Homo sapiens: one gene and its partners. The protein of the gene in region 4 purifies or fractionates together with the protein of the main gene of each other region. This does not show direct contact. Each region holds a gene or a part of one and is shown on either strand. Other genes may lie near its edges. The genes, in order: U2SURP, TLN1, BOD1L1, SLC26A11, MAP1B, PDCD4 and VPS39.

Region 1 (4,458 bases), on a different chromosome or scaffold from region 4:
AGAATACAGTTCAGTTCCAGGTTAGGAAGAGGGAGAAGCTCAGCTTCTGAAGTAGTGCTATATTTACTGTTTACCTTGACTGTTATCTTTAGAAGTTGATGATTATTTTAAAAATTGTGTTAACTGCTGTTTGAACTGTTAAAGTTCCGTGCTGAATGCTATGTAGCTGTAGGTATGTATCAGTGGAAAATGTCTGGTTTGCAGTAAATGTGATTAGTGACATCTTAAGCTAACTGAAATCAGCTGGTGCATTGTCCTACACCGGTGCATTGTGCTACACTATGCTGTTACTGCTCTGTTTGCAAATTTATCAAATTGTGTAATTTTGAAAGCTGACAAAATTGTTACTTTTGAACTGATTATTTTTGTATTAGAGATTATTTAATTTGGTGAATGGTTACGCAAGTGAGATCCTTGAAGATTATAGAGCTTCATCTTTTGATGACTTGGAGTCAGGGAAGAGTTAACTATATGGAAATAGGCAGAATGCCTAGGTTCTTGTATCTTTTGTTTTTAAATCCTAGAAATGATGATTTGGATGTGGTGGCATCAAAGACTACAGAAAGGGTAGCGCTTTCTTAGTTATTCTTTTGGATGCTTATTCTTTCTGGGTGAACTTTAGAATTGTTTTGGCAATTCTTTTGCCCCCTTGCAAATATTTCCCTTTGGAATTTAGAGCGGTTGAATGAAATTGTATTAAATATGTAAAGAAATTTAGGTGTCATTGACATTATCTTAATATTGAATTTTCCCATCCAGTAATATGAATCTTTTGAAAAGGTGGCTTGAGTAACTGGATTTTTCTCGAAGTTTTTGTTTTCTTCACAAGGGTTATATACATTTCTTAAATTGGTTTCTAGATGTTTTTATATTTTTTGTTGCTTTTATGATTAGGATGTTTTTGTTGCTTAGCAAGTTAATACTGGTGTATTGGAAGGCAATTGAGTTTTTTTTGTTACTATTGTTTGTTTTTGATATGGAGTCTCTGTCGCCTAGGCGGTAGTGCAGTGGCGCGATCTCAGCTCACTGCAAGCTCTGCCTCCCGGGTTCACACCATTCTCCTGCCTCAGCGAGTAGCTGGGACTACAGGCGCCTGGCTAATTTTTGTATTTTTAGTAGAGATGGGGTTTCACCAGGTTTGGCCAGGATGGTCTCCATCTCTTGATCCACCCGCCTCGGCCTCCCAAAGTGCTCGGATTACAGGCGTGAGCCACTGCACCTGGCCCAGGCAGTTGATTTTTTTCAGTCCCTTCAGCCTCTTGCCTGAACTTGTTTTTCTTTTGTAAGAGTAGTTATTTATTCTTTTGGATTTTTAAATTTCTAGATATTTGTAAATTTATGCATTTCAAGATATGTTTCAGGGTGTGTTTCATAGTTAATAAATACTAAAAATTTTCTTTTATACCACCTTGACATTTAAGAAAGATTAGCCGCTAGAAGAAAATCAGGGTGGACACAAAAGTTGGGGACAGAAAAACCATGGACAGAAAGAGTGAGATGGGGCCGGGTGCGGTCGCTCATGTCTGTAATCCTAGCACTTTCAGAGGCTGAGGTGGACAGATCACCTGAGGTCAGGAGTTCGAGACCAGCCTGGCCAACGTGGTAAAACTCCGTCTCTACTAAAAATACAAAAATTAGCCAGGCATGGTGGTGCGTGCCTGTACTCCTAGCTACCCAGGAGGCTGAGGGAGGAGAATTACTGGAACCCGGGAGGCGGAGGCTGCAGTGAGCCGAGGTCGCGCCACTGTACTCCAGCCTGGGAGACAGAGTAAGACTCTGTCTCAAGAAAAAAAAAAAATGAAAGAAAGAATGAGATGGGAGGGGTCCCAGTGCTTGGTTGTCCTGTTGTCCTGGGCTGATTTTTGCCTATGCTAATGCGCAATACAGTGGAGTTCAGAGGAGTAAATTGATTCAGTGTAAAAATCTTACCAGCTGTTCTTAGCCTTATGTCTGGACAATGTAAATAAAACAATACTGTATGGATCTTTGCTCTTTTTTAAATAACATGAATCTTCAGTTTTTCTCTTAAACTAATATTTTATCTTGTACTTTATATGACATCTTGTCTGGGAGTTGGGGTCAGGTGAGATATTTGTGATCTCAATATTCTTGATTTCATTTGAACATTTGACACTTAAATATATAAATAAAAACAAGTAAAATTTCACTACCGTATACCCTCAAAAATAAAAACAGCTCAGTGACAGTTATATTTTGGATCCCCAAGTAAAAATTCTTGGAGAATCTTTCTTTCAGAAAGATAGCATACATTATTTAGTTAATCGTCCTACAGCTTGTCATCTTTGTCTTTACATGTGTAGTGGCAACAAGTTATTGCATACCATGTATAATCTGATAGGTAGATCACTTAAGAAAAGTTGAAGTTTTAACAGTTGACATCACTGGAAGATATTATATGAACTCTTTCTCATGCCACCAGGCAGCCTGTGACATGCTATCGAATCATCTCCCTTAAAACGAGTTGTAAATGGTGCCTTATTGGGGATTTGATAATATTTTCTGGAACTTTGCAGAATTTGTACCTTTTAATAGACAGCAAGGATTTATATGTGGATTTCTTTATGTGGCTTTGGGTGATTAGAGAAAGAGAGTTCTCGTGCTGTGGACCAAGAAGTTGCTGGGCAGTGCTGTGGCAGTAAACGATGCATCTATGATTAGGAAGAGCTTTTGCATAAAACTGTGTAAAAATGGTGGTTAGGTTTCCAGTGTATACTATAAAGAGGTAATTTTGCCTCATATATATCCCACTAGTGTTTATTATATTTTTGGAAATATGCAGGCTGAATTTTAAAGAAATGACTTACACATTTACTTTGTATCACAATCTTTTCATAAGTCAGAGACTGCCTTTGCTCAGTTTTATTAGCTGAGGAGAAATTGCCAGAAGTTAGGAAACTCTTAAGTTTGTATAACACGAGAGACATGTTTTGTTAGTATAAGACATTTTAAATTATTGACTTTTATTTTTGATACTTGTAGACGAGATCATCAGATGTTCATTCATCTGGATCTTCAGATGCACATGTGAGTATAGAAGGCAATCTTTGTCTTTTTTCCTTTAAAATTTAACTTCTCCTCATATGTATCCCTACATCAATGATTTTACTTGACAAATAAATACAATTGTATGTGCTTTTTTCTTTTACTCTTTTTTTTCTAGGCGCCTTCCTTTTTTTTTTTTATGTTCTGCTTGCATAACTTAGCCCTCTGAAGCGATGTTAGAAACCTAGTATGTATATTTCCTTATGATTTTTATTGTGTAAAAATCTGTACATACATAACGTATCTATACTTATACTTTGACTATGGGATTGCATTATGCATATGCCTTTCTCACCGCACAAAACATATGTTGGAAATCCCTGCAGGTAAACTGTTAACAGCTCTAATCTGTTCTTTCTTAAGGCATCATAATGTTCTGTGGTGGGGAAGTGCAGTTGTTTGTTATTTCTTTGTTGATGGGCATATATTTTTTGTTTAAAGCTTTCAAGTAACATTTTGGATAGATAATACTACAATAAGTATTTTTTTAATATATGTTATTACAGCAGTGTTCAAAGTGTAGTCTGAAGACCCCTGGAGTCACTGAGAATCTCTGAGAAGGGTCTGTGAATTCAAAACTATTTTGTAATAATACTAAGGCATTATTTATGCCTTTTTCACCATTTTGGCATTTGCACTAATGCAAGTGTAGCTGGAGGTACAAAAGCATTTGGTGGGTAAACTGTTGGCACTTCAGCACAGATCAAGGCAGTGACACCAGAGTATACTTGTAGTCATTATATTCTTCCCCACCAGGCACAATAATTTCACTTAAAAAACTAGCATAATTAGAAATAATTTTTACTGCTTGATGATGCAGTAAAAGTTACTACTATTTTACTACTTCATCAAGCAGTAAAAATTATTACTATTGTCTTCATCTTTTGTGTAGTTCGTCTTAATATTCTGTGTGATAAAATAAGAAGTACGTATAACACTTATGCTTACCAAAATGTGATGTTTGTTTGAGTTGAGAAATGAAACTAGCTGCTTTTTTCATGAAACACCAGTTTTACTTGGGAGTGACTGACAGGCAAACTATGGTGAATCAGACTTGGGGATTTTGGCAGACATTTTCTTGAAAATGAAGGTAACGAACCTGTTACTTCAAGGAAAACAACTGTTACCAATATAAAATTCAAGCTTGTGAGTTAGAGTTATTGAAAACTTTCCCTGTTCTTAAGAACTTTTTTGGTGAAATCAATGGTGATATTAAGGGATGTGATATTTTGATAATCTACAATGAAATTTGTCAATATCTGGCATGGCTTATTCCTAGTTTTCAGTGCTATATATGTATATATGTGTGGTTTGTTTTTTTCTCTTGTTTTACTTTTCCTGAAGATGGATGCATCTGGACCCTCAGATAGTGATATGCCAAGTCGGACACGACCT
Region 2 (4,458 bases), on a different chromosome or scaffold from region 4:
CCGTCACCTTCTCAGAGACTCTCCGGGCACACTCTATGAGCTCCTTCTTGGTGTAGGCATCACTGGGGCTGCACTGCAGGGCGCCTGCCTTGGTGACCAGAGCGGCACAGCCATGGCCCAGCTCCTGTACCCGGTGTTTGATATGGGAACCTATCTGTGAGCCAAGGGAAAGACAGATGGATTTTACAAGGGGCACTCAGGGTACCTTCACTGTGCTTGGAAAAGTCACTAAGGACATAGAAAAAAACATGCATTGTAGACTAAAGAAGCAGAGAGAGAAGGTTCCCAGCACAAGGACGTTTCCGGTTGCATATCCTTTAGGCAGAAGGTCACCTCCTACACACAGAAAATAGTAGCACGCAGGCACTAAGTGGTGAGGATTGTGTTAAGCACAGTGGGGAGAAGGGGAGGAGCACTTTATGCTTGAATGTGGGAATCAGAGGGCCGTGGATTACCATGTGGCCTGTATGGGGTTATGGAGGGTTTTAAGGATGGGCATTACATGTGTCCTGCTAAGATCCAATTACTTGCTTTCTTGGAAAGCTAGAGGCTTAGGTAAGGAAGAGCTTCATGAGTTTGCAACAAGAAAGAACAAGAACATGGACTGGCAGCACAACAGAGAAGCAGCTGTAGGCCCAGATGAGGGTCGGCAGAAGCCAGAAAGGCAGGCCCGGGAAGGCTCCAGATTCTGAGCTGTTTCCTTTGTACCTGTGACTGAAGGCTTTGATCCTCTGTCCCTACCCAGAGCCTCACTAGTCTTCAGCAGAGTGGCCCTGAGGCTGTTCCCCTTTCTATGAAAGACCAGAGAGGGTGGGGGTGGGACAGCCCTAGACACTGACACATCAGGAACAAGGGGCAGGGGGCAGGGCAGAGTTGCCTCCACGTTTACCTCTTCATTTTCAGCAGCCACCGCTGCAGGCTTGGCCTCCGAGGCCAGACGGCCATAGTCACTGGTCAGCTGGTTAGCAAGAGGGCCCAGCTCCTCTGGGCTGGTGTTTGACTTGGTAACCTGGTGATAATGGAACGAGTGAAGTTATATCCAAAGTCAGCTCTCCGAGGGCAGTCCTCTGGGACTCGCCCAAACTCACCATCTCCTGAACGGTCACTGCAATGGCCTTGGCTGTCCGCACCATAGTTGTTTGGTAATCCACGAAGGAACCTTCTGGTTCACCCATTGGTCCTTCATCTAGCTGAGGGGGGAGGATAGGGAAAGGGAAAGACTGTTAGGGTCTCTGCCACTGTGCTTGGAGGCTCTGGCCCAGGGTAGCCTCAGTGTCCAAAGGCACCCCAAGACTCTAACCTGGTTGATGGCCTGGGTGATGGAGTCCACCATGCCACCCACGACCCCAGCAGCACTGGCTGCCTCGTTGAGGGTTGTTGTCAGGTCCTCTACGGCCTCGGTCATCATCTGCACAGCCTCCTCCAGGGCTTCCTGGGTGTGAGCTGCTTGCTGTGGGGAGAGGAGAGGAGCTCTGTTGTTCCTGTTTCTCCAGCCTCCTGCTAGTAACAGCTCCTCCCTCCCAACCCTCAATACCTTTGGGTTACCACCAGCCTCCTTGGCAGTGTATAGCAACTGCAGGGCAGACTCTGCCAATGTTTTAGTCTGGTCCAGGAGTGCCATCTGCTGCGGGTGGCTCAGGGTCTTGGAGGCAGCACCCACTGCAGCCAGGGTGAGCGGCTCAAAGTACTGCGCCATCTGGGACACCTGAGGCAAGGGGTTGGACTAGGGGTCAGGTCCCCTCTCTCTCACCCTACTCCCTGGGACTTCCCATGAGTCTCCATAGGTACCTTGTGTCCCAGCTGGGAGGCTTCAGCCCGGGCAGCATTGGCCAGCGGCTCAATGAGATGGGAGATCTCTTGGACTGCAGTGAGCATCTGAGTGTGCAAGGCCTGGGGAGGAAGTGGACATTAGCCCTGATGGTGACCTGCAATAGGACCCTCTGGCTACAAAGAACTGCTCTTCTGTCCATACCAAATACCCTAACCCTCCTTCGCACATCCCAGCCTTTGATGTCCCTAAGAAGCCACTCCTTGATCCCCCAGCTTCTTTGAGTCTGATATTTCTCTTCCTAGACACATCTTTCCATATAACCCTCTCCCTCTCACCTCTTGAGAGATTCCCTCACGGGGAGCAAGCTGCTGGCTGACTGCAGCGAGGGAAGCCTGGTCTAGGTCCCGTAGACAACTGTTCAGAGCTGCAATGGCCGTTTCACACTCCAGCTGCCCTGGAGCCTTGTCCCTGCAGACACATCATGGGCTCCAACACCAAGAACATCCCCTACTGCAAGGCCAGCCTATCCTTCCCCTGTATCCTCCCAACACCATCCCATCTCATTGCACTCAAGTGCCCATCCTCCATTCTGCCACAATGTATGCCCCCCAGCCACACTGGTTCCCCATCCCTCAATACCTCATGCTTGTAATTAGCTTCTTGATGGAGTCTGAGACAGTACGGGAGTGGCCGGCCAGCACCGACCAGCTCGGGGGGTCCCGGGGATTGACTGCGAGGGCCCGGGCTGTCTGGATGAGTCCCCCGGCACTCTCTAACATTGTCTTGGCAGAGATCACAATGGGCTCCATGGCAGCCCGACCCTGGGGAGAGGGGAGGCAGGAAGGTAAGTCTCAGGAGTCCCTGGAAGATGAGGTGATAAGCTGGCCCATCAGTTCCCCCTTCACATCGCCTCACCTCAGGGCTGATCTGGGCAGGAATGCTGGAGAACTCAGGGTTGGACGCAAAGGCACTCAGATTGTCCACAGCCTCCAGCAGAGGGGCTGTTGCTGCTCGGCACTGGGCACGGTTCTCCTCTGTGAAGGCCCCATCTAGCGCCTAGAAGTGACAGAGAGGCTCTCAGGACTTGGGATGCAGTCATAGGGGGTATAGGAAGTGAAGTCCAGGTCTCCTTCCTGGGACTTACAGGATTTGGGGAGAGGCTAGGTGGTCAGTCTGAATAGAAAGAGCTTGGGCTCAGGCAGAGGGGATTTGGTAGAAGGCTTCAGAGAATAACTGGGGGACTCGGGGGAGAAGATAGGACAGGTCAGGGAGAGGCTGGGAATTCAAGCAATGGGAACCTTGATGGTCTTGACAAGATTAGCTGTGCTGTTGGCCACCTCCTTGGCTGACTGTACAAACTGGCGCTTGGCAGTAGGATTGGTGGTACGGGCAGAAGCCAGGCGACAGCTGTTACACAGTGCAGAGGTGTGTTTAGCCACAATGGTGGCTGCAGAGAGCACCTGAGGAGACACATGGAAGAGCCACGATGAGGGCAGGAAGGAGGTGTACATACCCAAGGAGGAGCCATTTTAGGGTCAGGGGATGGAGAGCAATACCCTGAGGAGTCAAAACAGGAATAACAGAGTCACCTGAAAAGTCAAGATCTAGGAGACAGAGATACCCAAAGATGAACTGGGCATGGGAGAGGAAAGACATACTAATGGAGAAACCATAAGAGGGCATGTGGGAGAGTAAGCTCGAACATCTACAGAGAAGTTGTGAATTTAGCAGTAACTGATAAATGATGAGACCCATGGCAGAAAAAGACAGTTACCCAAAAAGAAGCTGTGTGTGCAAGGTCAGAGATGGGTCCCTGCCCTCTTTCCCACATGCCTCACCTCCCTCTACTCCACGGGGTCGGTCTGCCCTTTCCCAGACTCGCCTGTGGTCCCTGTTCCCTTGAGTTACCTGGGCCTGGGTACAGCCAGGCTCTCCCAAACTCTGGCAGGCCATCTGAATTGCCTGGTTTGCACGGGCAAACTGTGTGGGCTCCACTAGCCCTTGCTGTCCAGCTTGGCTATTGGGGTCAGAGACACCAACCAGATATGCAGCCTGGGAAGAGAAAAGGGGGTGGGGGTGAGGAATAAAGATTGCAGGTGGGAAATGAATAGTGATAGTAGGGACAAAAGAGAGCAGAGGTAAGTTTAGAGAATAGGGCTTATTTTCCAGAGTTCTCCATGAGTGGAGATACATTAGCAAACAATGGTTACACTATAAAGAAGAAAAAAAATACTCTCCTGTTTTCATTAAGTATATTCAAGCATTTCAGAAGATTAAAAAAGTTAATAAAAAGGAAAACTACATAGCAAGGGTTTTTATCCAATCTCTATTTAGATATGTTTGTGTATGTTGGGTCTTAGAGTGAAAAGTATGGCTTACTGTAAGTAGCAGTAAAACGTTTGAGAGCCATATATAAATACACACCTTTGTGCACACAAGCAAAGCCTCTTTTAAAGACAGTTCAAAACTGATGAAGGTTATTAGGCTAATTCACATTTATAGCACCTCCATGCGTCAGATATTTGGAAAGGAAGGGAGGGGTTAAAAAGCCATTTTTATGATGGAAAGAACATCCTAATGTTTGATTCATACTTCAATCAATACACAGTAGCTTTGCTTTTTCCTCTATGCATTTTCAGAAGGTGGGGGGAAAAAAACCAAACAAACAACAAAGAGGTTTAGTGAAA
Region 3 (4,458 bases), on a different chromosome or scaffold from region 4:
TGAGGAGGGGCATTGGTCACTGAGGAGCTTGTTGGAAATGCCAACTCTCAGGCCCCAGCCTAGACTTACAGACCCAGGATCTGCATTTTACCAACAGCCTCAAGTGATTTGACTGCATGTTCAATTTTGAGTAGTATGCATGGAAACCTTCCTGAGATTCTTTCCCTCACATATAAAATAAGAGTAACTATTACAATTCACTCACTGAGGGTTAAATGAGAGCATGTATGTGAAACTGCCTGGCACTATAGTTTGCTTTCGTTTCTAGAATGTGCGGAAAACAGCACATACATACAAGTATGCTGTGAAGATGAAAATGTGGTAAGAGGTCAAAACAGTTTTTGTGTACAGTGAAGAGTCTTTTATTTTTGAATATGATAATGTATAGAAAGTATGACAAATTCCTATCTCAAGAAAGAAACCTAGAGCTCAGAGGGGTAAATAAAAGGAATATACCAAACCAATGCTATGTGGCATCTCAAGTGCCCAGTACTGACCAGAAGTGCAGCAAGAAGAGATGAAAATGGGCTGAAGCGGGACGGAAAGGATCTGACTTACTAGGGGTGCTGGTGGTGAGGACACTCCTCACTGGCTCAAGCAAAGGCAAGAAAGGAAGGCTCAGGACCACCTCTGGGAAGCAGTAAGACCAGTAAGGCTGCAGTGAAAGGTGTAAGCTGGCAGGGGCCGTGCCTGAAAGAGGAAGCTTTATCACCTCATCACCTCTCCAATGCTCTAGCTAAAACAGAAATGATTCTGGGCTGTTAAATGCTTTACCACACTGCCTTGCCTTTGGTCTTGGTGGATGGGAGAAGGCAGATAAGGCTCACAGGTGTCAAGGACAAGCCTGTGTGGCAGTCCACTGCGGCAAGGCCAGACTGGTGAGGCCACACAGACACCTTCTGCAGCCCTTCCTGTTCTTCTTGGAAACCAATGATCCCCAAAAACAGTTATTTGGTGAGACAAAATCTTAAAGGAAATTAGGAAGAAAGCATTATTGTACCAAAAATAGTCTTAGGGGGTTAAAAATGGCTTGAAGTGTAAGCAGGGACTTACCTTCCTAATGGGGGAGAGTTACTAACTTTTTCGCTGGTAGGTAACTTCTCTTTTGCTAATTTTTGGCGATTTCTAGGAGAAACTGTGTCTGGGCTGCCAAGTTTGGATGTTGCACGTGCAGATGGCTTGCTATGTTGCTTTCTGAAACAGATTATAGAAACACTGGGCAATGGTAGCACTGAATACTCCAGTCCCTGGAACTCTGTAGGAAGTATGAGGCTCCTTGTGGGCAAGTCAGAACAATAGGAACTAAAATCAGAAAAATGGTTGGTTTTCCTGACCACTGCTGATAAGTCGATCTTAATGTCATCTACAACTACCTCTGCTTGTGTGACACTATCTTTGTTCTTACTGTGCATGATATTTTATTGTGATTTAGAAAAAAGATGTATCTGCGAAAAATAGAAAATATACTGGCCGACAAAATAAAGATTACAAAAGAGCTCATCAGGGTAGAATAAAGGGCCAAGATTAACGAAAGTACAATTCACAAGGCTAAGTGTTAAGGCCCAAGTAGTCAACTGCACAAGAATCAGATAAGGAATTCTGATTCCAGTAAAAACTCTGAAAAAGGAACTTGTTTAGCTGGTGTATTTTTCAATTTGAGGCTCAGTAATGAGGATGCACACTGAAGAACAATATCCAGAAAATAAGGTAGAACAGTCCTCTTCTGGATTCATTAGACCACACTTGGTATACAGAGTTTGCTTCTATCTATCTGTCTGTCTGTCTGTCTGTCTGTCTATCTATCTATCTATCTATCTATCTATCTTTCTTTCTTTCTTTCTTTCTTTTGAGAAAGAGCCTCTATCTATCTATCTTTCTTTCTTTCTTTCTTTTGAGAAAGAGCCTCGCTCTGTCACCCAGGCTGGAGTGCAGTGGTACAATCTCTTCTCACTGCAACCTCCACTTCCCGGGTTCAAGCAATTCTCCTGCCTCAGCTGCCCAAGTAGCTAGGATTACAGGAGTCTGCCACAATGCTCGGCTACTTTTTGTACTTTTAGTAGAGATGAGGTTTCACCATATTGGCAAGGCTGGTCTTGAACACCCGGCCTTAAGTGAGCCACCAGCCTTGGACTCCCAAAGTGCTGGGATTACAGGCGTGAGCCACTGTGCGTGGCCTCTTTTATATTTTATTAATTTAATTTAATTTTTTCTTTTAAGAGGGTCTTGCTATGTTGCTTAGGCTGGTCTCGAACTCCCAGCCTCAAGCAATCTTCCTGCCTCAGCCTCCTGAGTAGCTGGGATTACAGGCATGAGCCACTGCGCCCAGCTGCACATTTGCTTCTAAAAGAGGATAAAGGTAACTGATGAGCACAAACAGGGATGATGAAGGGGCTCAATAAGCAAGCAGAGAAGACCTGGAAGCTGCCCTCAAATATGTAAGGCAAAATTAGACAGAAGGTTCTGAAAGTCGAACTAGAATCAAGAGTAGAAGCCACAGGGAGGCCGGCTTCTACTGAACACAAGTCAGAGAATGCTAAGGAGGATGTGGCTTTCCCTGCCACTGAGGTCCATGCAAAAGCAGGAAGACCCTTTCAGAGGAGCTGCAGGTGCAGTGACTCAGGCACTGACTGGCTATTGGTACTACATGACCACTGAGAGCCCACCCAACTCAGACAATTTGTAAAATTATGAAGACACCAGAGCCCTGGGACTGATCAACCAATGCCAAGGAATCTAAACTAGAGAGAAAACAACTCATTTGTAAATCAAAAGTTTATATTATAAAGTGCATGAAGGAAGAGCTTTGATAATCCAGGTGATTACAGAACCATATAAATCAAATAAGATTTATTTTTAAAGAATTTATAAAAGGCAAATCTGAGAGCAATTTCTAGACACTCACTCGAAGATGGCTAGAAGGCCTATGGAACTTTCTCTGAGTTGAGCCCTACTTTCCACAACTGTTTTAAAGGGAAGCAGTAATTCTGGTGGGATGGATGCTATACCCAAATGCATGGGTGTTGGGCTCCAGCACCCTCACCCTCTCCTAGCAGCAGCAATTTGGATTCTGTGACTTCTTTTCTATTTATGTGAGCTGCTCCACCTAAAAAAACAAATATGAGACCACCTTATAACTTTAGCCGTGTGAGCTTCTAGAGTCCTTTGGCTCTAAAATCTGATTCTTTGAGAAATCAAACCATGGCACAAATGGCTAATACTGTGTTAAGTCTGGAGGAATTAGAAACAGATTGATTTTAAGTTTTTGTTTTTTTTTGTTTTTTTTTTTTGAGACGGGGAGTCTCACTCTGTCACCCAGGCTGGAGTGCAATGGCGTGATCTCGGCTCACTGCAACCTCCACCTCCCGAGTTCAAGCGATTCTCCTGCCTCAGCTTCCCAAGTAGCTGGGATTACTGGCACGTGCCACCACACCCAGCTAATTTTTTATATTTTTAGTAGAGATGGGGTTTCACCATATTGGCCAGGCTGGTCTCGAACTCCTGACCTCGTGATCCGCCGGCCTCAGCCTCCCAAAGTGCTGGGATTACAGGTGTGAGCCACTGTGCCCAGCCCCGATTTTAGTTCTTTATGTAAACACAAGATACTATTATATTATGCTGTTAGTGTTATTTTTGAAATAAATCTTCCTGAACTTTTTGATCAATCTTGAATAATGAAATTAAACAAGATGATACCAAGATTAATAGCTTGTAAATCACATTAATTAAAAATTAAAAAAATATATATTTTTTCAGAGACAGAGTCTCACTGTCACCCAGGCTAGAGTGCAGTGGTGCGATCACAGCTCACTGCAGCCTCAAGCTCCTGGGCTCAAGCGATCCTCCCATCTCAGCCTCCCAAGTAGCCGGGACTACAGGTGCATGCCACCATGCCCAGCTAATTTTCTAATTTTTTTGTAGAGATGGGGTCTCCCTGTGTTGCCCAGGCTGGTCTCATAAACTCCTGGGCTCAAGTGATCCTCCCATCTTGGTCTCCCAAAGTGTTGGGATTACAAGCATGAGCTACCGTGCTCAGCCTGGAAAATATTCATGTTTGGGAAAGTGATTAACGGTTAGGATGAGACAATACAGTTATGTACCATTTCTCAAATGTGCCATGGGGAAAGGAACACTGGATGATGTGAACAGGTATAATGATATAGGCCAACAACAGAAAAGTGGTATCAGCAAATAATGCTTGTTTAAACAAAGTTCAACAGGCTTCTTTCCTTTAGGAGTTTGCCAAACCCTTTTTTTTTTTTTTTTTTTTTTTTTTGAGATGGAGTCTTGCTCTAACACCAGGCTGGAGTGCAGTGGAGCCATCTCAGCTCACTGCAACCTCCGCCTCCCACGGTTAAGCAATTCCCCTGCCTCAGCCTCCCGAGTAGCTGGGATTACAGGCACTCACCACCATGCCTGGCTGATTTTTGTATTTTAGTAGAGACGGGGTTTCACCATGTT
Region 4 (3,532 bases):
GCTGCCTGAGGTCAGAAACGACATGGATTGGAGGGCAGGGGTGAATGGTTCACTTGTGAATGAGAGAGGGCCAGGCATGGTGGCTCACACCTTAATTCCAGCACTTCAGGCTGAAGCTGGAGTATCACTTGAGCCCAGGAGTTTGAGACGAGCCTGGGAAACAAAGTGAGACCCTGTCTCTATAAAAACAATTAACAAATTAGCCTGGCGCGGTGGCATGTGTCTGTGGTCCCAGCCACACCAGAGGCTGAGGCAAGAGGATTGCTTGAGCCCAGGAGTTGAAGACCAGCCTGGGGAACACAGTGAGAAGAAAGGGGTGGAGGGAGGAAGAAAGGGAGAACGGGAAGAAAAAAATGAAAGGAAGGAAGAAAGGAAAGAAAAACGGAAGGAAGAAAGAAAAGGAAGGGAGCAAGGGAGGAAAGGAAGGAAGGAAGGAAAGAAAGGAAGGAAGGAAGGAAAGGAAGGGAAGGAAGGAAGGAAAGGAAGGAAGGAAAATGGGAGGAGGCAAGGGACCTGGAAGAGTGACGCGGATGAAGGACACTCCAATGTCCACTCCCGTGTCCAGTGGGGAGCCCCGCAGCCAGCAGCCCTGGTTACAGAGGCCCTCCCCTTGCTGCGCTGACATTGGCCGGGACTGCCCGGGCAGAACGGGCAGAACGAGGCTCAGTAGGGCAGGCCACATTCTTCTTGAAGAAAGTGCAGGGAGAACACACCTCTGAGGCTGCCACAGGCCTCCAGGGATTTACCCCCAGACTCAATCAAAGCATTCATAAAAATACAAACATGCAGGCAGTCCTCACCTGCTCAGGCCGCCGTCACAGATCACCCCAGGCTGCGGGGCCTAGCACAGAGATTCATCTTCTCCCAGTTTTGGAGGCTGGGGTCCTCATGAGGCCTTTCTTCCTGGTGGGCGCATGGCCTGGTTTTGCCGTGTCCTCTCATGGAGTTCCCTGGGGTGTGAGGGTGCAGAGAACGAGCTCTCTGGCGTCTCTTCTCACGAGGACACTAAAGCTATCGGTTCAGGGCCCACCTTTATGACCTTCATTAAACCTAGTTACCCCCTAAAAGCCCTGTTTCCAAACGCAGTCACATAGAGGGCAAGGGCTTCAACTGACACATCTAAAGGAGGCACGATCCCGTCTCTAACCCACGCACACGTTGAACAGAGGGCTCGGTAAGTCAATTATGATGCATATATAGACCAAAATACCACGCAGACATTAAAAATCTTGTATTCTAATGCTATTTATTATCACAATAAATAATTCACTGCAAATGACTGCATGAAAAATGTGGGTTCCAGAGCACCATGTATAAAATGATCCCATTTATGTAGAACTGTAAACATACATCCACACACTGACGGACAGGTACATATGCATGTTTGGGGAGGGGTCTGGAATGATCACCCAAGTGGACAGGGTGAGGGGTGGTTTCCTGTATTTTTTACAATAAGCATTTATGACTTTTACAAAATCACCAAAGCTATCACTTTTTCCATTTAGAAAACACAAAATTATTTTTAAATAGAGACTTGACGTCATTTGACACACCTTGGTTTTCTCTCGGAGAGCACAGATGCCGCAGACAAGAGGAGCGGACCCGCCTCCCAGACTCCTGCCTGCCCCGTCCCTCCCCCGCAGGTGGCACTGGTGAGCCGGGAAGGTGCTGCCAGCCCCAGGATGCCTCGCACAGCCCGGGCTGGAAACCCCTGCCCCTGCTTCCTCGCACAGTCTGTCATTCTAGAAGGCTCTCTCCAAACCACTCTTCCAAAGAGGGTCATGCCAGGGAACAGCAGCGAGGTCATTTTCCAGTCATCCCACAGGAAGCCAGTGAGCCCCACTCCCACTGCCGTGGACCTCCAGGCCTGGCTTCCTTCTCTTCCCTGGGTTACCTGCTCAGGGGTTTCTCAGCCAGGCCAGCATGTCTATCAGGCGGCATCCAGCATCCAATCACAGTGACAAGAACCTTCCGGAACACCCTGCAAACTGTGGATGCCCACGGGTGGCCCCATTATGCCTTGAGCAGGGCAACCTTTTGGTCCAGAATGGAGTCTTCTCTGATGTTGTAGGGCTGGGTCCCTGGCTCCTGCCTCAGGTGCTTCTCTGCAGAAAATACAATAAATGTTTCAAGCACTAAAAGCTCAGAAGTGAGGATGGGTCAGTTCACAGGAAGGGATTAAGGAGGGCCTTCCAGAGTCCTGGAAGGTGTGCAGGAAGGAGCTGTGGGCCACCCAGGCCAGTGTCACTAACTCCATGAGGGTCTCACCTGAGTCTCTGTAAGCGTATTTTTCAGGTGACTAACGGCCCTTTCTTACTGCTCCAGGGTACCCTCCCATCCCACGGCCAGGCCACATTCTGCTTATCCACCTCCAGTGCACTGCATCTGAGCTGATTCTACAACAACATGGGTGAATCTCCCTGACGTCACATTGAGCCAAGGAAGTCAGTACAACATCCGCCACCCCTCACTCTCACGGAGCTGACCCAGCTTCAGCTGTGACCTCAGTGGAAGAGGAAGAGGCCTAGCACTGGGGCCTGGGACCCTCTGGCCACTGCTGTGTGGCCTGGGGTGGATGCTCTGCATCTCTGGCCCATCCTCTTGTTGACACCTGCTGCGGCTCAGACCTCCTGCGATTGCTGTCTCAAGGGTCAGCGCCCACCCTGCTCCTGTCCCTCCCGTACCTTCTGTCCCGGGGCTTCTGGATCTCCTGACCCGGCCCTGCTCTGTCCTGATCCCCCGGGATGTGGACTTTCGGCTGGAAGGACATCCTTCCAACCTTCTGCATGAAAAATGTGGGTTCCAGAGCACCAGGTATGAAATGGTCCCATTTACGTAAAACCGCAAACATATATCCACATCCTGACAGGCAGGTACATATGCGTGTTTAGGGGAGGGGTATGGAGTGATCACCAAAGTGGACTGGGGTGGAGGTGGTTTCCTGTTTTTTTTGTTTTTTTTTTTTTTGAGACAGAGTCTCGCTCTCTCACCCAGGCTGGAGTGCAGTGGCACAATCTCGGCTCAGTACAACCTCTGCCTCCTGGGTTCAAGCGATTCTCCTGCTTCAGCCTCCCGAATAGCTGGGACTAGAGGTGCATGCCACCACACCCAGCTAATTTTTGTATTTTTAGTACTGATGAGGTTTTACCATGTTGGCCAGGCTGGTCTCGAACTCCTGACCTCAGGTGATCCACCTGCCTCGGCCTCCCAAAGTGCTGGGATTACAGGCATGAGCCACTGTGCCCAGCTGGTTTCCCATATTTTTTACAATAAGCATTTATGATTTTTACAAAATCACCAAAGCCACAGGATGTCTGACTGTGCCCACCTGCTTCTTCCAGGGTAGAGAAGTACTGGAACCCCTTCAGGTCAGCGGACAGCAGGACACGGAGAACGGGGACCTGAGAGACAGACAGACTTTAGCCAGGGCAGGGATGTTCCTCTGTAGCACACGGGTCGGCAGCCTGGTAGACCTGCCATCTCAGAGTCTCCCGGAGAGGTATGGCTTCACCTCCATACCAGTGAATGGTGA
Region 5 (4,458 bases), on a different chromosome or scaffold from region 4:
AAAACTTTTCTATTTTCCTCAAGAAATGCAAAGGATTTTTCAATGTATATTTTCCAGGAACCAGAATAAAGCTGCAAAGAAAAGCTATTGTTTCTAAGGGAAACTGAAGGCTGGAACCAAAAAGCAATTAATCAGTTTCTCAGTTCTTTACTGTTAAGAGAAGTGCTTCCGTTAGGGTACAATTTTTTGTATTTCCTTTAACACAACTGGTAAGTTTTGCATAAAAGATATTGCATATTTAATCCAAGGATTTTATCGCGCACTTCAAAGCCCTCAAAAGCCCACTCATTGTGAGTAACTAACATTTTGTCCTGAGAACAAAGATCTGCACCTTTACTTTATGTGTGTGGTTGGGGATGGAGGTATGGGGTGGGTAAGTAATGTCCTGAATAGTATAAATTCCATCTAGCATTCAGTAGGGAGCCACTGGGTGCCTCTCATTAGATTTCATATGATTAAATAACAAGTAATTCTATATAATATGATACAAGCACAATTTACTAGGTAATTTTGTACAGAACCACAAATAAAACTTGATAAGCAAAGATCACAGCTGAATTAATAATAGCTGGTTCTAAGAATCATTTAAGGCCAGGAGTTCGAGACCAGCCTGGGCAACATAGGGAGACCCTGTCATTAAATAAATAAGGGATGGTTTGTGGTCAGGCATGATGTTTGGGAGTTGGGAGTGTCCTGTGAGGGACTATATTCAGCAATGCTCCTGCTGTGGAATTTCACATGGAGAGCTGTTTTTCTAAATGGCCATATTCCTAGCCGCAGTCTACTCATAAAACACAAAGGAAGAAAGGCAATTCCTCAGGAGCTCTCATATGGAAATATGACCGCTTTGATTCACACACACAAGACTCTTGGCATACTGGAGGAAGGGCAATTAATCTTAGGCCCATTTTGCAGATAAATGGTTTCTGCTTTAGTTAAGGTGTCTTTCCTCCAAGGCCGTGGTTGGTGGTGGTGCCAAGAATATTATTTCAGACTACCTACTGTGTGTTAAACTGACTTTGTTCTCAGGATATTTCGTGTGTGACAGACACAGGAGGCACCTCATGTGGATCCACGATCAGCCACATGAGGTGCCTCTTTAAACATGGTTCCTTCCCATTGCCTCTGGACACAGCTCAATCGGCAGTGCAGACACTGTCGAGGAGTTCTCACCTGCATGTTGCTGCCCCACTGAGCCTTTCCTTCCAACAAAGCGTCCAGGACAGCCCGGCTGGGCTCCTCAGCAGCAGGGTCATTCCCACTCACCACGTAGTAGGAAGACCGCACTCTCTTGAAAAATTCCACATCAACATTCTTACTATTGCTGTGGTTAGGAATGTAGCACAGGTCCAAATACACAGGGAGGCCTGGGGGCACAGCAGATGACTTGGTCGTCTTGGTAGTTCCTGGTCCTTGGGTAAATAAACAAAGACAAAGCAAGGTCATAGCAAGGTGAAGAGACCATACATCCAGCACATGTTCCCCACTCAATCACACCTTCCCTATTCAATCACAAGTAGGTCCTCTGAGACATGCAAAGTGGTGACAGCATTTCCATCTCCCTGGTAATCTGTCAAGGGCATTTACGCTAGCAATGTGACAAAACATAACATGGTTGTTTACCACCTCAATAGGAGAAATGAAGAATGGGATAGTTTCCCTTTGTGGACAACCAATATTAGGAAGCAAGAAGAGTTTGAAGGCCTTTCCCAAGATGGCACTAGATATAATACTCCTCCTAAAGAAGTTGTTAATGTGTTTCTTTATTTGATAAGTGATCTAAGAAGTAGATTTTAAAAGTCAAAAGAAAACGTCTGTATTTGGCAAAACATAGCTAAGTGATCTTAGTGCTCTATTTTAGGGTCTCATTGATAGCAATTTTGTCCACAGCTGGATATTATACCCTAACATTCTACCTAGCAAATAGTTTTGATCTTAACCCCATATGATTTCCAAGGCCCTCAGCACCTCCATCTCATTCATAAACTGATGAAACACCATATTCTCTCCTTAGCACAGTATTCTGAAAAGTGATACTTCTTTCCCTAGACAAGGCTGGATGCCAAACTTGGGCAAAGGAAGGTTCAGAAAGACTAGGCTTTCTCTAGCTAATCAGGACATATCAGACTGCAACCAAAACCCCCAGTCAAATCACAAAGGTCTGGGAAAACTAACTTGTTCCAGTTAGGAAGTTTAAAGCTTTTGAAATGTTAATAGAACTAGCATTTTGAGGCAGTGGTTCTTCAGCCTGACTATATAATCAGAATCACCTCGGATGCTTAATACTGACACCCAGGCCTCATTCTCTAGAGTCTGACTTAAGTGGGCTTGGGTTGGGGCCTGGAACTACTGTCTTTTAAAAGCACCCCAGGCGATTCTAATATGCAGCTGGTTTCATTGCTGTAAAGCCAATTAAAACACCAGCTAGATTTTACATGCTTAATCCTCTTTCTCCATAGGATATTTAAAGACTATCATCCCAGATTGAAAACCACCAGCTAATTCTATCAACTGTACAGTTTTATTTTTAGAGAGGTTAGGGAGTGGTGAGAATCAGCCAAAGTAATAATTGGATAAGCTAATTCATTCTATGAATAGATCAATAGTTTATTTTAATGAATCTGAGCCGAAAGCCCTCAAAATATCCAAAGAATTCCTAAAGAATTCTGACTTGTACTAGAAGTTTGTGAGTTACAGTTCTTCCAGTAATTAAACATGTCTGCCAATTTCGCCCTCTACTCTAAATCACTACCATCAACATCAAATGAATATTGCTCACAGAAGCACAAACTGACAGAACTGCCCAGGTTTGCTTTAAAAGTCAATTAGTACTGCAACTTTGCCTTTTTAGACATCTAAAAGCATCTCCAAAATAAATGAAAATTAACTCATTTTCACTTATTACTTTGCCTTTAAATTACCTCTTTAAATGTCCAAAAAAAGTTTTTTTAAAAATTGTGTGGGCTAGGATGTATATGTTCTGGCAAATTTGCAGTTGGTTTTATCTGTTTAAATGGATTTCATGTTTTCTCCTAAGTGCAGGTCAGTTGTCAACTCTTTCAGATGAAAGGGTTAATTATCTGGTGGTTTTTCATTCATTTTAAACATGAAAAAATTCCGATTATTTTCTATGTGCATGTAGAAAGGCCAAATGTGCTGAGAACTGAGCCTTAAAATTGATACTCCATATTGTTTAAAGTAAAAATTTGCAGTTTTAACAAATGTATCCTAAAGTGTACTTAATTGGAGAGCTCCAAAGATTACTCTATCAGATTTTCCCTAATAAATCAGGGCAATGTTATTTAAATTATGTTGTGCCTTACATGTTTGGGTCCATTTACATTACTTTGTGAATTGTGATCTAAAAATCTCTGAATAATTACCTAAAGCAAATAAAATGTATGAATGCCAATCCTTGTGATTGATGTGAAGCAACAAAATGAAGCAGTACTGCCATAGACCAGTTCCATCAAAAGCCCAGGTCATTGCTGAGAACCTGATAAATCTGAGAATCATGACCAAAAACATGAATGATCAAAAATCAGGGATACCTGCTCTTGCCAAGTGGCATTTCATTTGCTTATTTATTTATTTTTGAGAGACAGGGTCTTGCTCTGTCACCCAGGCTTGGCATGCAGTGATACATACAATTCTGGCTCACTGCAGCCTTGATCTCTTGGGCTGAAGTGATCCTCCTGCCTCAGCCTCCCAAGTAGCTAAGACTATAAGCACGTGCCACCACACCCAGCTAATTAAAAAACATTTTTTTTTTTTTGTGGAGACAGGGTCTTGCTATGTTGCACAGGCTGGTCTCAACTTCCTGGGCTGAAGCTAACCTTCCATCTCAGCCTCCCAAAGTGCTGAAATTACAGGCATGAGGCCATGCATCTAGCTTCCCAGTGGAATTTTAATCTGAAATAGCATTGAGTCTCTACTAATGAGGCCATGGGGTAAGAGAAGGGTAAGAGCAGAGCCATCAATGTTTTTCTCTCAATTTTCACCGGACACTCACTGGTCAACTGAAATTATAGTATTTTTTGGCTGATAAGAAAATGGAACACTGCCTTTAATGAGGATTTATCTCCAACCTGGTGATGTTTTAAATAAAAATGTAAACATTTTTAATTTAAAAAAAATTTTTTTTAAAAAAGGACTCTAAATCTTGGGTCTAGACTGGTTGATCCAGTCTTGATGTGAAACCTCTGGTTCTCCTTAGGCCTTTGGGAGCTCCTGGCCTGTGTTACCCTGCTGGATTCTGAGGCCAGTATGGCTGAAACCAGTCTTCCAGAAGCACCTGAAAGACACATCCTTGGTTCTGAAGATTTAGAACAGGGCTGTAGTTGCTGTGTTCGAAAACGGCACAAAATCAGGAATCCCAGTGATGAATCACAGCTGCTTTGAACCATACACTGAGCTATTTCCAAGCCTTAAGGCCACACTGGACTGAGATATATACCT
Region 6 (4,458 bases), on a different chromosome or scaffold from region 4:
GAAAATAATGAAGGACTTTTAAGCAGAATGTATCTAGGATTAAAGAGAAGTCAAACAATGCCTTAAAAGTTTTCAAACTGGTAAGAAGCCGGTGTTAGGATGGTGTGTTTGGGACATCATCATAACCATCAGTAGTAATTATAGTCTTAGTGGAAGTAGTCGTAGTACTGTTTCTTTCATCATTACCATTACTATTGTCATCTATTAGATACCAGGTTCCACACTACCTGGTACCTATTAGATTCCACACTACCTGGTACCTATTAGCTAAGGCACTTTACATATGTGGTCTATAAGCTTCAAGAGCTCTAGAAAGAAACTGTTTATCCTCATTTTACAGAAGGAATGTGTTTCACAAGAAGTTACATATCTAGAAAGGATTATGGCTAGAATTCAAACCCACATTTTTAATCCCATATAACTACAGAAAATACAAAACTAGAATACAGCAGAGTATTGACAGCTAAAGAGACGAACAAGGGCGTGAATGTAAAGAGAGATAAACAAAAATGATTAAGTGGAAGGGGACAGAAAGATCAGGATCACATAAATTAGATGACATTTTCGTGTAAGAGTGGATGGTTGAGAAAAACATTAAACATCTACCTGTAACATAGTGCTTTCATCATTGTGCCATTAAGGTGAACCACAAAACTGGTCCAGAAGACACAGGAGTCAGAACTATAATAAAATGTCTTAAACTGTCCCTTGGAGTATTCAATTTAAATACATCTATTTCCCATAATCGAGTTTTCTTTTCTTCAACAATTTTAACATCCTTTCAAGTATGTTTGTGTCTCTGCAGCAGTAAACATTCTCTCAGTATAATTTATATATTTGACCTTATCATTTTTAACCCATGTTTGTATTAATTGCTTTATATTTTGTTACTCATACTCACCTAACTGTTGGAGTTCCATAACCCCTATTGAGCTGACTTTAAGAAAACCAAAATTAAAATGATAAGCTGAGTACAGAATGTGATTGACTTCAAAATTGTTTCCTACTGTGTACTAATTCCCTCTTTCTGAATTCTGATATCTCAATAGTAACCACTCCAATTGTATATGACCACAGCACCAGAAAATCACATTTTCAATTACTGGTGTCCAATGAGTGGCATAATTAGAATAACATTACCACACTTTCATGTATTACATACCTAGTATGTGCTTCACAGACTTAACACACATATACAATATCTCACTAAATCCTAATTATAAATCTATACAGAGGGTATTTATATCCCAATTTTATACATGAAAAAACTGAAGGTCAGAATAACCTACTTCCTCCAAGTAAAAGAGTAAGAGTGTGACTTGGACTATTTGCTATGTGAAGAATTTACTACAAAGAGGGTCTATCTTAGGCCTATTCAAATATTGAAGAACAAGTCTTTTATTTTAAAGCAGTGCTGGACACAAGCACCAAGAACAGGGTTAGAACTAGGTCTTATTGTAGTTAGGAAACAAAAAGTACACATTTTAAAGCTGTGTTTCTATTTCTAATAGAAATAGAATGCAAGCCATATAAGAAATTTTAAATTTTCCAGTAGCCACATTAAAAAGTAAAAACAGGTGAAATTAATTTAAATATATTTTATTTAATCTAATATAACCATATCATCTCAACATGCAAGCAATATAACAAATTATTGAGATAGTTGACCTTCATCTCAACTCAGAGTAGCCACATTTCAAGTACTCAACAAACACATGTGGCTAAGCACAGTGGTGCACACGCCTGTAATCCAGCTACTGAGGAGGCTGAAGAGGGAGGATCACTTGAGCCCAGGAGTAATAACCACATGTAGCTAGTGGTCACCATACTGGACAGTGCAGAAAAGAAGCAATTACCTATATGTAAAATATATTCTAAACTGTATTACCATCCCCATCTCAATTAAGTAGGTACATATTATCCATTTATAACCCTAAAGCATACTCATACAGCTATTGTATACAGCAGCACAGAAATGATCATTAATTACATAAATTTTTTTCAATTTTTTACCATACTTTAAAAAGATCTGTAAATAAACAATGGTAAAGAAGCTTCAAATTCAACATGTTTGTTCAGATCAAAGAAAACTATGTACATTGTAAACAATAGTGAGTTAAGTCACTGAGGAAAGAAAGATGTAGTATTTAGTTACGAAATACACTTAAAATGACAGAAAATAGCTTTCAATATTAATAAAATTATAAGACAAAGAATTATCCAAAGTATACCAATATGAACTGTTCTCACTATTCAGATATTACACAATTCTAATTAACTTTTTGGGAGATTATTTTTAAAACTATAAATACATTTTAAATTATCTTGAGTTACTCACATTTGGTCATCTATTCCACAAAACTGTTCATTTTTATGATAATAACATGCTATTGAAGCACCATGGAGAATTAGGGAAAATACCCTAGGTAATTTAGAATATAAAAATTATTTGTTAGGAAAGATACCAAAGATACCAGTAAGTTTATATTACAGAAATCACTAACTAGCCCATGTGAAAATAAGCAGGCTCACTATTCTTCTCTATTCTGTACTATATAACAGAGAATAGGAATATGTGGAATGTGAAAGGATAGGCAGAAAAATAGGACATGTAATGAATTTCCATGAAAATAAAAATCACAAACTTGACTTTAAAAATAATATAGCCTGTTTTCTTACAGCATGAATAAAAGAGTATTTAAAGATAGTTTTTCTATCATGTTTTTATAAAATATGGAATGGTCTGAAGCTTCCTCACAACATAGTCAAGCTTCAAGATATTTCAGCCTAGGCAACATAGTGAAATCCTATCTCTACAAAAAATAAAAAATTAGCCTGGTGTGGTGGCACACACCTGTTGTCCCAGCTGCTGAGGAGGCTGAGATAGGGGAGGATCTCTTAAGCCCAGGAAAGTCAAAACTGCAGTGAGCCATGATCACACCACTGCACTCCAGCCTGGGTGACAGAGCAAGATCCTGTCTCAAAACGAAGAAAAAAAGAAAAAAGGATATCCTTACTTACCTGCAGGGTTTACATTCAGTATCTGCTCATTTTCTACATCCATTTTCCCTTAATTTCGCTTGCACTGATTAAACAAATTACCTAATGGAAATCTTCCTTCAGAATCTGTTTTTTTAAAAGAAAAAAAGAAAGCTTCAAGATCTTTTAAACTGATGTAATTAAGCTGAATTAAACTTACTTAAGCACACTGTAAAAACAAACGACAACAACAAAAAACACACAATTCCATTAAATAAAACAGTTCACTTTACTTTCAAAGACAACTTACCCTAATTAACATTTGGTTCCAATCTTTTTGATAAATTTATCAAAGTCAAAAAAAAAAATCCCAGATTTCAGCATGTGCCAAAGCACCCCTTTAATTGGAATTAAAAGATATGTTTGTGATACATGTTTACGTCAAGTTAAAGAAATACACACATCCAAATCTTTTAGGAATACCAAGCCTCAAAATTAATCTGATATACATACATAGGAATATAAATACTGGATAGTTCCCTACCAATGAATTATGAGAACTACTCCAAAATAAAAACAACACAGTTTTAGTTAATAAAGAATATCACATGACTGTGTTATTTTTCACATTACGGCATATCTGAAAGGCAGATATATCTGCCACTCATTACCTAGGTCTCTATAATTACTAGAATAAGACTTTGGGAGAAACTTTTAAAATCAGCTTTTTTGATAATATTATTTATATGAGAAATCCTTTTTTGATAATATTATTTATATGAGAAATCCATTTTTTAAAAATCTGATCATTTCAGAAAGGAGTAAGTACAACGACATAAGCATTTCAGTATTTTAGGCCTCAGTTTCAAAATGGCTTAAAAATTATTAATACTGGAAGGTTTGATGAAATCAGTTACCTTTTAGACAATTAACTTAGTGATACAGATCCAATAATGTTATATGAAAGAAATATCAAAATAGTTTTCAAAAAATATATTACCAGAAAGTGCAACCAAATTAAGATTTCAGAATCTCTCTAGAAGTATTTTTTAAATAGTGGTTTAGAGTACTTAAGTGTATGTTTAAGTCACATAGGTTGGATATAAGTCCTTCTGGTCATTTACAATCAGGTTGCTAGCAGTGTGCTCTTCAGAGATATAAAATGCACAAATTAGTGAAAATGCCTAATAAATTAATTACAGAAAAGCACATTTTTTCCTATATAACTTAACCTACTGTTAGATGTCATTTTAGGATAACAATGATATATACAGAGCCTCCTGGGACTCAAAGGTGAAACTGACTTTTAAATTCCTCATTATGTACTACTATTTGCTAACATAAGTTTATAGCCCTTTTCTTCAGAAAACGGTATTATTTTGTGAAACAAAAACAAATGGACCTTATGTTAAAATTATAGGCTTCTTACTATGGTATAATCCTCAGACTAATATGCTATCATATTGCTTGGGAACTTAA
Region 7 (4,458 bases), on a different chromosome or scaffold from region 4:
CCCAATCTGGTCTCCAACTCTTGACCGCAAGCAATGCCCCTTCAGCTTCCCAAAGTGTTGGGATTACAGGGGTGAGCGACTGTGCCCAGCCAAATTGTACATTTTAAAAGATGGTCTAGGCTAGTGGTTCTTAAACTTTAGTGTATCACAATTATTTGAGAGTTTGTTAAAATACAGAATGCTAGGCTCTACCCCGGAGCATCTGATTTAGTAGGTTTAAAAGTAGGCCCAGGAATTTTCATTTCTAACAACTTCCCAGATGATGCTGATGCTGGTGGTTCAAGGACCACATTTTGGGAGGCACTGGTCTAGGTAAAAAGAGGCTCAGAAAGAGTTTAAATAATTACCCTGACAGACCCATATTACATCATTCAAGGAAGGTAAGCATGTACAGATACTTCCTTAGCTTTTTGATAACATAAAGGTCACTCATTCCTTTCATAAACTCTCTTGATTCTTGACCTCTGTAAAATAAAATCTTGGATAATGGTACAAATAGATAACTTTTATTGAGCATGTATTGTGTTCCAGGAAATGCTAAACGCATCTGTTATTTCACTAATCCTCACAACTATCCCTTGAAGTAAGTCCTTTTTTCAAATCCCCATTTTATAGATGAGGAAGTTGAGGCCTAGGGAATATATAACTTTTCCAGAGTCACACATGTGGCAAGCAGCAGAGTTGGGATCCCAACCCCAATTTGTCTTGATTCCCAACCACATGCTGTGATGTACTTACTAAGGCACCCATGTCAAAAAAAATGGGTGTCAGCCAAAGGTTGTCTGAATGGCAGTAGTTATATTTATAAAAACAGGTCAGCACCTACATTCCTTATCCAAAGGATCAATAGTATTTCTCCAGGATGATGTTCTTAGTCATCCAGAAAAACAGAGTGATTCTATTTTCTTTGATTTGGGGTCTTAAAGGAAAGGCAGGTCACACACAAAAAAAATGTTGAAATCAGAAATAACAGCAGCTCTAATGAAGGCTGGAGATTTATGCTGCAGCAGAACATGAAAAAATAAAAGAATTCATTTTGCAATATTTGTTTTGTAAAAGATACTATATTTAGAACTTTATAGATATCATGATATCAAGCAATTTAGCAATATTAAAGTTGATTTTTAGGCCACCCACTGATATTTCAGATATAAATAAAATGAAGTGGAAATTTTTTAAAAATCCACTCATAACATACATAAAAATCTACAACCAAAACAAAAGGCCAACATAATGTTCATCATCTTCCCCATCCTTCTCTCTCCACTCTGTCCCCCAAATCCCTGCCAGTTCCTGCTTTTCTTTATCTTTTTTAATAGCCTCAGCTTCCTCCCAAGTCGGCCAGGGTCTATCAATTCTACCTGTAATGGTACCTCATGACAGCCTCCTCCTATAGAGTCTCTCTGGGGACCCCTGTGACACCTTCAACTGGTCTCATTCACTCCATGCATTCTCTCGCATTTGCTGTCAGTTATCTTAGAGCAGATCTCTGATGCTGTCACACTGGGGCTTAAAAAATCCTGTGAAGCTACACTACCAAAATATGAAGTCAAATTCCTAAACATGACATTCAAGAGTCTATTTTCCATTTTTATTGAAATGTTTCTTGCCAATAGATTTTTTAATTTACTTTTTTTTTTTCTTGTGAACCCAAACTAAGACATGACAAAACATTTTAAAAAGTCAAATGTCTAGGGGCCGGGCACGGAGGCCGAAGTGGGCGAATCACTGGAGGTCAGGAGTTTGAGACTAGCCTGGCCAACATGGTGAAACCCCGTCTCTACTAAAAAATATAAAAATTAGGCCGAGTGTGGTTGGCTCATGCCTGTAATCCCAGCACTTTGGAAGGCCAAGGCGGGCAGATCACCTGAGGTCAGGAGTTCAAGACCAGTCTGGCCAACACAGTGGAAACCCATCTCTACTAAAAATACAAAAAAAATTAGCCAGGCATGGTGGTGTGTGTGCCTGTAATCCCAGCTACTCAGGAGACTGAGGCAAGAGAACTGCATGAACCCCGGAGGGAGAGGCTGCAGTGAGCTGAGATCGTACCACTGCACTCCAGCCTGGGTGACGGGGCAGGACTCTGTCTCAAAAAAAAAAAAAAAATTAGCCAGGTGTGCTGGTGAGCACCTGTAATCCCAGGTACTAGGGAGGCTGAGACAGGAGAACCACTTGAACACTGGCGGCGGAGGTTGCAGTGAGTGGAGATTGTGCGCCATTGCACTCCAGCCTGGGTGACAAGTGTGAAATTCTGCCTCCAAAAAAAAAATTAATTAAAAAAATAAAATGTCTATTCTACTGGTCATAAAAGGGAATCAATCCGATGGATTAAATTCTCTGTAAACTTTTAAATCAACCTGATTGATTACATGTGCCATTAGCCAGAGGACCTGTCCCATGTTGGGTCCTCCACTCTCTAGGACACGTTATTTAACAAAGCTGTGCATGCACAACACAGAGGATGACAAGCCTGCAGAGCACGCGCAGCATGGGATGGACAGTGCCTTCTGAGACTCAATACAGTAACACACAACAGAAAGTGAGACATACTAAGCAAACACAAAACGCACACATAAGCAAAGCAGTATCAGCCCTAAAAAACTCCTGACGGCCTAACCCTGAGCCACAAGGTTGGACTTAATTCCTCCTGAGAAGGAGGGCTAGGCCCTATTGCTCATAATTACCCTAATGGAGCTCCTTCCAACAGTGCAATGCAGTCCAACTTCATGTAATAAATTCCATTTCTGGCCCAATGCTGGCCACTGCAGGGACCACAAAGATAAGTAAGATAGTAGTCACTTCCCTTCGTTGGGTAACATGGCAAATAACAGTACTTCTCATCTGGGCATAAGCCCCCAATTAGCTGCATTAGAATCACCTGGACTTATTAAAAATGCACATTCCTGGGCCCTGCACATGGAGATTCAGATTCAATGGCTTTGAAGTGGTACCCTGAAATTTACATTTTAAAATTTAATCTTGTTGGCTGGGCAAAGTGGCTCACGCCTGTAATCCCAGCACTTTGGGAGGCCGAGGTGGGCGGATCACCTCAGGTCAGGCGTTTGAGACCAGCCTGGCCAACATGACGAAACCCCGTCTCTACTAAAACTACAAAAATAAGCCAGGTATGGTGGTGGGTGGCAGTAATCCTAACTACTCGGGAGGCTGAGGCACGACAGTGGCTTGTACCTGGGAGGCAGAGGTTGCAGTGAGCTGAGATTGCACCACTGCACTTCAGCCTGGGCGACAGAGCGAGACTCAGTCTCAAAAAATAATAATGAAATAAAATAAAATAAAATAAAATTAAATTAAATTTTATTTGTTTTTATGAAACATTCATGTAGTTCCAAAGCTAAAACGACGAAAAGTCTAGTTTCTATCATTGTCCATTTTATCCTCTCTTCTCCCTTCTGCTATGGGCATCATTTTAGTAATTTTTGACTTATCTTTCCATTGTTTCTCTGGAAAATATAGGTATGTATGTATATATAGACATACAGATACTCATATATACATGTGAAGTCTGCATTTTTTACAGGCTTTGAATATACATTCAAGTTTGAGAACCAGGCTCTAGAAGCAGACATGATTTACAGGACATGTGACCTTGGAAAAATTTCTTAAATTTTCTAAGCCTTAGGTCTTTCTTCTGTAAAATGGAGTCTTATTTTATAAAAGCCTAATACAGATTAGCATTTAACAACTGCAAGCTATTACTATTCATATTAACATTATTCATTAAATATATATTTAATGAATACCCATTGAGTCAGGAAATGTTTTAGGTACTGCAGATATAGCAATGCAGAAAACAAAGATACTGCCCTGAGGGAACTTATATTCTAATGTGGAGTGAGAGAGGCAATAATAATTAAATATATAAAATAACAGTAGATGGTGACCCATGATTAGAAGATAAGGCTAAGAAAACAGCACATTGGTGGATGTGGCAATCTCTTTTATATAGGATACACAGGGAAGGTTTTGCTGATTTGGGTGACATTTCAGCAGAGAACTGAGTGAAATGAGGAATGAACCATATATACAAAGGCAAGTGAGTGCCAGGCCAAGGAAACAGCAAATGTAAAGGCCCTGAGGTGGGTATGTGCTTTGTGCATTGATGGAACAAAGAAGGCTGTGTGGGACTGGTACCAGAAAGGAGTGAGAGGTAAGTACACAGAAGACAGGGAAGAAATCAGGGCCTGATCATGTCAGATGTTGCCAGACAGGGTGAAAACTTTGGAACTTATTCTAGTTGTGATGTGATACCATGAGAGGGTTTTGAGTAGAGGATGGAATCAGATTTAGGTTTTCAAAGTTTCACTCTACCTGGTAGACAAAAAACTGAAAATGGCACACTGGCAAATATAGGGTGATCAATGAGAAGACTACTACAGTAATTCAGGTGACAGATGATGGTGCCTTCAAGAGTAGTAATCATCAAGATAGAGAGAAATG

Evidence for each region.
Region 1: the proteins of SLC26A11 (region 4) and U2SURP purify together in Homo sapiens (affinity purification with mass spectrometry; one large-scale study listed by BioGRID and IntAct). This does not show direct contact.
Region 2: the proteins of SLC26A11 (region 4) and TLN1 purify together in Homo sapiens (affinity purification with mass spectrometry; one large-scale study listed by BioGRID and IntAct). This does not show direct contact.
Region 3: the proteins of SLC26A11 (region 4) and BOD1L1 purify together in Homo sapiens (affinity purification with mass spectrometry; one large-scale study listed by BioGRID and IntAct). This does not show direct contact.
Region 5: the proteins of SLC26A11 (region 4) and MAP1B purify together in Homo sapiens (affinity purification with mass spectrometry; one large-scale study listed by BioGRID and IntAct). This does not show direct contact.
Region 6: the proteins of SLC26A11 (region 4) and PDCD4 purify together in Homo sapiens (affinity purification with mass spectrometry; one large-scale study listed by BioGRID and IntAct). This does not show direct contact.
Region 7: the proteins of SLC26A11 (region 4) and VPS39 purify together in Homo sapiens (affinity purification with mass spectrometry; one large-scale study listed by BioGRID and IntAct). This does not show direct contact.

What each region holds. Positions count from the first base shown.
Region 1 is NC_000003.12:143,007,815-143,012,272, forward strand, and holds part of U2SURP (U2 snRNP-associated SURP motif-containing protein), read left to right. Parts: intron 1-3,000; coding exon 3,001-3,045; intron 3,046-4,407; coding exon 4,408-4,458.
Region 2 is NC_000009.12:35,704,662-35,709,119, forward strand, and holds part of TLN1 (talin-1), read right to left. Parts: intron 3,824-4,458; coding exon 3,680-3,823; intron 3,232-3,679; coding exon 3,070-3,231; intron 2,828-3,069; coding exon 2,687-2,827; intron 2,593-2,686; coding exon 2,411-2,592; intron 2,240-2,410; coding exon 2,107-2,239; intron 1,891-2,106; coding exon 1,789-1,890; intron 1,706-1,788; coding exon 1,535-1,705; intron 1,451-1,534; coding exon 1,301-1,450; intron 1,191-1,300; coding exon 1,089-1,190; intron 1,010-1,088; coding exon 890-1,009; intron 155-889; coding exon 8-154; intron 1-7. UniProt on the Homo sapiens protein: High molecular weight cytoskeletal protein concentrated at regions of cell-matrix and cell-cell contacts. Involved in connections of major cytoskeletal structures to the plasma membrane.
Region 3 is NC_000004.12:13,571,649-13,576,106, forward strand, and holds part of BOD1L1 (biorientation of chromosomes in cell division protein 1-like 1), read right to left. Parts: intron 1,195-4,458; coding exon of another isoform or gene 1,054-1,194; intron 1-1,053. UniProt on the Homo sapiens protein: Component of the fork protection machinery required to protect stalled/damaged replication forks from uncontrolled DNA2-dependent resection.
Region 4 is NC_000017.11:80,251,198-80,254,729, reverse strand, and holds the end of SLC26A11 (sodium-independent sulfate anion transporter), read right to left. Parts: intron 3,402-3,532; coding exon 3,329-3,401; intron 2,106-3,328; coding exon 2,014-2,105; 3' UTR 1,230-2,013; downstream 1-1,229. UniProt on the Homo sapiens protein: Sodium-independent anion exchanger mediating bicarbonate, chloride, sulfate and oxalate transport.
Region 5 is NC_000005.10:72,200,517-72,204,974, reverse strand, and holds part of MAP1B (microtubule-associated protein 1B), read right to left. Parts: intron 1,413-4,458; coding exon 1,174-1,412; intron 1-1,173. UniProt on the Homo sapiens protein: Facilitates tyrosination of alpha-tubulin in neuronal microtubules. Phosphorylated MAP1B is required for proper microtubule dynamics and plays a role in the cytoskeletal changes that accompany neuronal differentiation and neurite extension.
Region 6 is NC_000010.11:110,874,634-110,879,091, reverse strand, and holds part of PDCD4 (programmed cell death protein 4), read right to left. Parts: intron 3,127-4,458; 5' UTR 3,065-3,126; coding exon 3,022-3,064; intron 2,423-3,021; exon of another isoform or gene 2,349-2,422; coding exon of another isoform or gene 2,339-2,348; intron 1-2,338. UniProt on the Homo sapiens protein: Inhibits translation initiation and cap-dependent translation. May excert its function by hindering the interaction between EIF4A1 and EIF4G. Inhibits the helicase activity of EIF4A. Modulates the activation of JUN kinase.
Region 7 is NC_000015.10:42,201,384-42,205,841, forward strand, and holds part of VPS39 (vam6/Vps39-like protein), read right to left. Parts: intron 1-4,458. UniProt on the Homo sapiens protein: Regulator of TGF-beta/activin signaling, inhibiting SMAD3- and activating SMAD2-dependent transcription.